Homo sapiens: one gene and its partner. The protein of the gene in region 1 purifies or fractionates together with the protein of each later gene. This does not show direct contact. Each region holds a gene or a part of one and is shown on either strand. Other genes may lie near its edges. The genes, in order: PLA2G4D and GOT1.

Region 1 (3,824 bases):
GGTCCCCAGTATGAATTACAGGGAATTTGCAGGAAATCTCTAAATAGGGCTCGATCCCCTGCCACTGATGGTGGTGGTGTACGTACGAGTCAGTCCTTAGGTACAAATGTGTGTACGTGACCCCTTCTCAAAATCTTTTTATTTAGAAACTCTGTTGCTCTTTTGATACATATGACTAGGGAAAATGTGTCCTTTTACTATAGTTGCACAATTTATGCCCTAGGGAAAGTTCTGGAAAAAGGTCAGCACACCCCTCCATCTACTGAAACCCACCCGGTATATCTAATGGCTCACCAGTAAGCTGCGGCAGGACTCTCAGTCTCTAACCCCCCAGTTTCCAAGCAAGTAACCCCAACCCTGCAGAACACCATTCTGATGATTCGAGGGTCCCATGGGAAACACTGGAGCTTGGTGCAGTACCGGCAATGCAGACTAAAGGGAAGGAAAGTGTGTCAGCTCTTAACTCAGGAAAGGATAAGAGAACCACTCTGAGTTTCTCCTTGAGGAATGATAAGCAGCTTCTAAGCAGTTCAGTACTTGCCAGCAAAAGACTGAAGAAAAAAGTTTCGAAGAGATGAGAGTTTGAGAAGCACTGATTATAGCTAGTGTATTTTACGAGCGGGTTTTTATAAAAACCTAATCAATATTAAAGATGTATGTAGACTAATAAAGTCATTCTGAGCAAAGTTTCAGGGTATGATATTTATTAATATTAATGAAATTGTGATTGGTCATAAATGGAGTTATATATTCTGACATTGTAAGTGATTTTTGGTATTTTAGATTATTACATTATAGAGGTAATAAATACCTGTTTTTATCTAAAGTCTTTAAAAAATTAGAAATTGACACTAAAATTGCCCGAAGAAAACATTATTTTGTAAAGTCTACAATGAATGTTGGCTTTAAGAGGTAAGGTATGATAATCAGAAGAAAAAAATAATAAATTAAAAACCTTTCATATTGGGACAAAATTTTAAAAATAGCATAGGTGCTTTTGTTGAGACAGAGTCTCACTCTAAAGCCCAGGTTGGAATGCAGTGGGGTGATTACAACTCACTGCAGCCTCAACCTCCCATGTTCAAGCTATCCTCCCACATTAGCCTCCTCAGTAGCTGGGACTACAGGTGTGCACCACCATGCCCAGCTAATTTTTTAACTTTTTGTAGAGATGGGGTCTCACTATGTTGTCCAGGTTCATTTTTAAGAATATATAGGTGTCTAATAATACCACAAGCATTTCTATTTTTGTGAACAATTAAAAAATGTCTTCTAAAAAATGTCTATAAAGCTTGCACATAAAACCGTGCATTAAGTCATTACTGGAGTATCCAATGGTAATTAAATAAAAGTCTGCTTTACAGCCTAGGATCAAACTGCGTTTTCTAGCACCTTGTAAAGTGAACTGTTAAAACAGCTTCTCCCATTCTGTAGTAACTAATTGCTGCCACTCAGCAGGAAAGTCAGTTATTAAAACACAACACCATCAAAACTGAATATGAACTTAAACAGTAGATCCAAAGACTACATAGCACATAGTAATAAAATGAAAATATTTCTAGTAATTAAGTTGGCTTCATAAATTCAATGCCATTTCAATAAAAATCCCAACAACATTTATTGCAAAACATGACTAGGTGATTCTATCATATAATTACAACAGCAGGCCAGTCATAGTGGCTCACACCTGTAATCCCAGCACTTTGGGAGGCTGAGGCAGGCAGATCACTCAAGGCCAGGAGTTCAAGGCAAGCCTGGCCAAAGCAGTGAAACACCATCTCTACTAAAAATACAAAAATTCGCCGTGCATGGTGGTGCATGCCTGTAGTCGCAGGTATGCGGCAGGCTGAGGCACAAGAATCACTTGAACCCAGGAGGCAGAGGTTGCAGTGAGCCGATATTGTGCCACTGCACTCCAGCCTGGGTGACAGAGCAAGACTCTGAGGAAAGGAAGGGAGGGAGGGAGGGAGAGGGGAGGGGAGGGGAGGGGAGGGGAGAGGAAGAAGGAAGGAAGGAAGGAAGGAAGGAAACAGCAAAGGGTCAAGTACAGCCAAGAGAATTCTGAAGAACAATTCAAGTGGACTGGTAACTTGGCCTATCAGATACCAAGATTTATCACAAAACTTTAGTCAGTGTGCTGTTGGCATAGGGATAGAGAATCTGTCCTGTTGGAACAGAATAGGGCACTCAGGAAGAGTCACAGGAATATAAATACATGAAAAATATATGAAACCTGATACATGACAGAATTAGCAATGCAGATCAGTGGAGAAAAAATTCAATAGATGAGACTGGGAAAATTTGTTATTAATGTGAGAAAAAACAAAATTGGATCCCTATCCACATGATACCTGGAGATAAATTCTGGGTGGATTAAAGTCCTATTAGTAAGAAATAAATCTTTAAAAATTTTATAAGAATGTATAGGAAGATATTTTATAACTTTGGGGGAGTGAAAAGGAAGACTCCCCAAAACACAAACCATAAAGGAGAATGATAAATTAGATTATATTGAAATTATGCATTAAAACCATTAGAACTGGTAAGGATTCACATCGAGAATACATAAAGAATTCCTACAAAACAATATGAAAAAGACAAATTAAACAGGAAAATGGAAAGGGGTTTGAATAGGTAATTCATGGAAGAGGAAGCCCAAATGATAAATATACTTAAAAACATCAACTGTCTAACTAAAAATCAAAGAAATGCAAAACTATGATAAATGTTCCTTTCACACCCCATAGTTAAACAAAACTTTAAAAGTCTGCCCAAGATATAGAGAAAAAAGCAACTATTATACACTGGTAGTGGGAGTGTGAATTAACACAACTCCTTTGGAGAATGGTTTGGCAATACCTAGGAAAGTTGAAGGTGCACAAACCCAGTGGCCCAACAATTTAACTACTGGGTATGTATCTTGGAGGCTTAGAGAATCTTTAATGCAGGTGTGCAAGGAGACTTGTACAAAATTGTTCATGCAAATAATATCATATTTTTCTTAAGGATATATATGTGAAAATATTGTGAACTGGAAAACCTAGAAGAAACAGATAAATTCCTGGACACATTCAACCTACCAAGATTGAACCATGAAGAAACAGAAAAGCTGAACAGAACAATAACAAGCAATGAGATTGAAGCAGTAATAAAATATCACCCATCAAAGAAAAGTCAAGGACCTGATGGCTTCACTGCTGAATTCCACCAAACATTTAAAGAACTAATACCAATTCTACTCAAACTATTCCAAAAAATTGAAGAGGAGGGAATACTTCCAAAGTCATTATCCAAGGCCAGAACTACATTGATACAAAAGCCAGATAAGGACACAAACAAAAAAAGAAAGCTACAGGCCAAGATCCCTGATGAACATAAATGCAAAAGTTCTCGACAAAATACTATCATACGAAATTCAGCAACACATCAAAAAGATTATTCACCATTGATCAAGTGGAATTCATCCCAGGAACGCAAGGATGGTTCAACATACACAAATCAATAAATGTGATACATCACATCAACAGATATAGTTGGGATCAGTGCCCTGGTTACATAATCAAAAATGCCTTCCCAAGTCTCACCTCATTCTTACCTCTCCTAGGACCTTTGTTAGCTATTTTGTTATTACTAATCTTTGGCCCTTGTTTGATTAACCTCTTAGTAAAGTTTGTGTCTTTTAGATTACAATAGTTCCAGGTAAAGACAATGCTGGCACAAGGCTTCCAATCCATCCTGCCTACTGACCAGGAGAATTAAAATGTTCTGCCTATGGGCCCCTTAGATCAGGTATCCAGAGATTTTTACTCCTCTGTTGCTTGGCC
Region 2 (3,824 bases), on another chromosome or scaffold:
CCTGGGGCTCATCTGTTAAATGAGGAGCCAAGATTGAATGACCTCTCTCCCAAATTCTACTCTTAAGATTCTACTGGGCCAGGCATGGTGGCTCACGCCTGTAATCCCAACGCTTTGGGAGGCCGAGGCGGGCGGATCACGAGGTCAGGAGATTGAGACCATCCTGGCTAACACGGTGAAACCCCGTCTCTACTAAAAATACAAAAAAATTAGCAGGGCGTGGTGGCGGGCGCCTGCAGTCCCAGCTACACGGGAGGCTGAGGCAGGAGAATGGCGTGAACCCAGGAGGCGGAGCTTGCAGTGAGCTGAGATCGCGCCACTGCACTCCAGCCTGGGCAACAGAGTGAGACTCCGTCTCAAAAATAAATAAATAAATAAATAAATAAAAAAGATTCTACTGTACTAAAAGTCAACTCCACAATTCACTAGCACATTCTATGACTGTAGCGTAGGATAATAATTTTACTGGCCTCATCAGTTGTCTGAGGATTAAATGAATAATTATATGTGAAATGTGATATATAAATGAAAAGTGTCATATATAAGTGTTATTTTTGATCATCACTGTGACCCGTCTTTTTGTGGATAGCAGGTGTTTGGATAAGGATCTAATTAGAGTAGAATAAAAGGTCTCCTTCCAGCCGTTATATGTCCTAGTCTTATTTATACACATCCCCAAGTATACCCCTTGTGAAGAAAATGTAATTAATCATTGACCTTAGGGAAGATACTTTTTTTCCCCCAAGTTAATATAAAACCTAATGGAGGTTATCTAGTTAATGTTCCAGTGATTTTGGACACGTTTAGAATAAACTGCACCTGTAATCTCAGACAGTTCCTACTTGCAGCTAGTTTCCTCAGTTTTTCTTCTTGCTGTGATGATTTAAATAATTTCCTTATAGGTAAACAGAGGAGAGTATCACATTTTCCACTGCTAAGCACAATGCTTTCTAAGTTGATCATTTTAGTGCTTCTCAAAGCTTCAGACTGAAGTGGTTTTAAGGACATGGGAAATGGATCCAACCTGGTGCAACCTGTAGCAAGAAGTTTCTTCAAAGACTCCAGTCCATTTTTTCATGTGAGCCTAGCTTTCTTTTGGCCCAGATAAACTCTGCTAGCTTTAATATTTCTTATTTTCAACATGGTTTCCTAGCATCTTCAAATAAAATAGTTGGGAAAATATGCTTTATCAGATGTTTCTGAGTACCCCTAGCCTTCTCCCCAGTATCCTAATAGGCTCTTGAGTGGGGATAGGTGAGGGAAGTGGCGATCTTAGGAGGAAGATGAGGGTGATGGTTTGACCATTTAAATCTGTGTTCTTTCTTCCTTTCCTTCTGCAAAGCAAGACTGCTGGGCCCACCTGTAGACTGTGTGACTCCCCTAAAAGGGTTTATGTCCAGGAAGAAGAGCAGTGGGGCATGGAGCTGGGGAGCATGCTGATAAAAAGGCCCCTGACATGGTCCCAGGGGCCTGCTTGCTTCAGGCTTTCTCTAGACATCTCTTGCTTTTAAAAAAGCACATGGATCCATGAACTTAATAGTATGACAGCCTAGCTCTTGTTATCTCTGTGATCCTGGGCAAATGGTTTGACTTTTCTGGCTGCAGCAGCCAGATCCTTAAAATAGACATCACAATATCTATTTTGTGGGTTGCTATCCAAATTAAATGAGAGTAAAGAAATGTATTTAGTGCAGTACCTTGTATGTACAAAGTATTTAGTAAATCCGTGTTGTTATTTCTCTGCCCTCAGGTTCCGTCAATGTCTTTCTCCATGCCCCAGACCTCATCTCTGAATGTCAGGCCTACAGTGGACACATCCTACAACTCCCTCAAATTCAGCATGTTCAAAGCACAGCTCATCATTTCCACCTTCCCCTTGATCTTTTCTTCTATCTTCCCCTTGTGTTCTAGGTCTTGGTCGACCCCACTACCACCATCCACTCATTATCCAGACTTGAGGGAGACCTTGGAGTCAACAGCAGCCCTTTCCCCAATCCCCTGTCTTTTTATTTGGTCAATAGGTTCTGTCTTTTCTACCTCGAATCTATTTCCAATGGCACCCCTTTTCTTCATCCCTGCTGCCATTGTGTGAATTCAAGGCCTCATTATTTCGCTTCTGGAATATTGCAGTAGCTTTCTACTCCTTCTACTTCTAGTAACTCACCCTTCTTAACTACTGTCTCTGTCCTTCTCTCTGGTTTATTTTCTGTGGTGTCACTCAAATGATCCCATTAAAATGTGCAGCTGCTCATGTTACTCTCTTGCTTAAATGCTTTCAGTGGTTACCCATTGAAACTGAAGTTCCCTAAAAGAGACTCCAGGATTCTTTTAGCCACTCCCAGCTAATCCTTAGTGGATTCCACATCAGAGTCATGAAAATGCAGATCCTCAAAGACCTCATGCTCCCCAGGCCTCTGGGGCCTTGCACAGGTGTGCCCTCTCGCATGCCCTTCTTCCCTTGTTTACCTTTTAAACTCTTATTCATCTTTCATTCTTCATTCTCTGTAAAATCTTCTCTGATTCCTCAAATTAGAATTAAAGGCTCTATCTATGCTCTGTGTTTCTTGGAGGGCAGATGGGATCTTATTTTATCAATCTCTATAGCTTCTACTAGCCAGTGCCTGGCTCATGGTGAGACTTAGTAAGTACTTGTTATGTGAGCGAGTGAATGAAAGAGTGAATGAGAAACTCAAGGGTCCAACAAATAGGAATAAAAATTCTTGGGGACAGCAGGAATAGTGGTTGTTGTTAATGCCTGACCCCACTGCTCCAGTCACCCAAGAGGAATCTGGTTCTGCTTCACTAGGGCAGTTAGGAGAGGCATCAGGAACAAATCTAGAACTCAACCTGGGAAAAACTGGGCAATGGAGAAGGAAGGGGAGTTGTAAATTGGCCAGTTTTTTTTTAGTCACAGTATAGACACAATGCCTCTCCAACCATCCCCAACCCAAGTAGTAGTATTGGAATTTTAGAGTTTCACAGAGTATTCAGTAGTGGTAAGAACAGCAGTATTCCAGTCTTTTCTTTCTCTTTCATATTTTATTTATTCATAGCACATTATTTGTGAATGACATATTATCATAAATATAAACACATAGCCTAATAATGTTATAGAATAGATATAACACCCAGACACAGAACTGAAACATAACAGAACTGGTTTTTCTATAAACATCCCAAATTTTTTTGCATCTACCTAGTATCCTTTGTAGGTAGTTCAAATATGCTTTTCTTGTTCCAAGATTTCTAGAAACCCCTTTTAGACTAGCTATCAAGGCATGTAGGACCCACACAAGGGATCATTTTTTAAAATAATTGTTCTCCGTAAGTTTTACCCAGCTTATTCACTCACTCTTTTCAATGGAGATGATGCAAATGCTATTCCCGAAAAATAATTGACTTTCAAAGGACAAAGATTTGGCACTATTGAGGCTATTCAAAATAATGAGATGTTGCCTCTAGAAACAATTCCAAAAGAAGTTTCAAGAATATTTTGAACAATGGTAACGTTGTGATCATAGATATGTTGATGTGCTTTAGGGACAACTCTTACTTGGAAGTAGCTATTTTGGTACATCTTTAGAGAAGCCAGACCAAATCCCAGCTGGCGAAGGAGGCTTTTTGAACTTGTTGAGAAGTTTGGTGGACTAAGGGGTATATCATGAATGGTATGAGAGTATTGTGAGTTGGGCCAGGCATGGTGGCTCACTCCTGTAATCCCAGCACTTTGGAAGTCCGAGGCGGGAGGTTTGCTTGAGCCCAGGAGTTTGAGACCAGCCTGGGCAACAAAGTGAGGCCCTGTTTCTATGAAAAATTTAAAAAAA

Evidence for each region.
Region 2: the proteins of PLA2G4D (region 1) and GOT1 purify together in Homo sapiens (affinity purification with mass spectrometry; one large-scale study listed by BioGRID and IntAct). This does not show direct contact.

The regions. Positions count from the first base shown.
Region 1 is NC_000015.10:42,073,940-42,077,763, forward strand, and holds part of PLA2G4D (cytosolic phospholipase A2 delta), read right to left. Parts: intron 1-3,824. UniProt on the Homo sapiens protein: Calcium-dependent phospholipase A2 that selectively hydrolyzes glycerophospholipids in the sn-2 position. Has a preference for linoleic acid at the sn-2 position.
Region 2 is NC_000010.11:99,423,821-99,427,644, reverse strand, and holds part of GOT1 (aspartate aminotransferase, cytoplasmic), read left to right. Parts: intron 1-3,824. UniProt on the Homo sapiens protein: Biosynthesis of L-glutamate from L-aspartate or L-cysteine. Important regulator of levels of glutamate, the major excitatory neurotransmitter of the vertebrate central nervous system. Acts as a scavenger of glutamate in brain neuroprotection.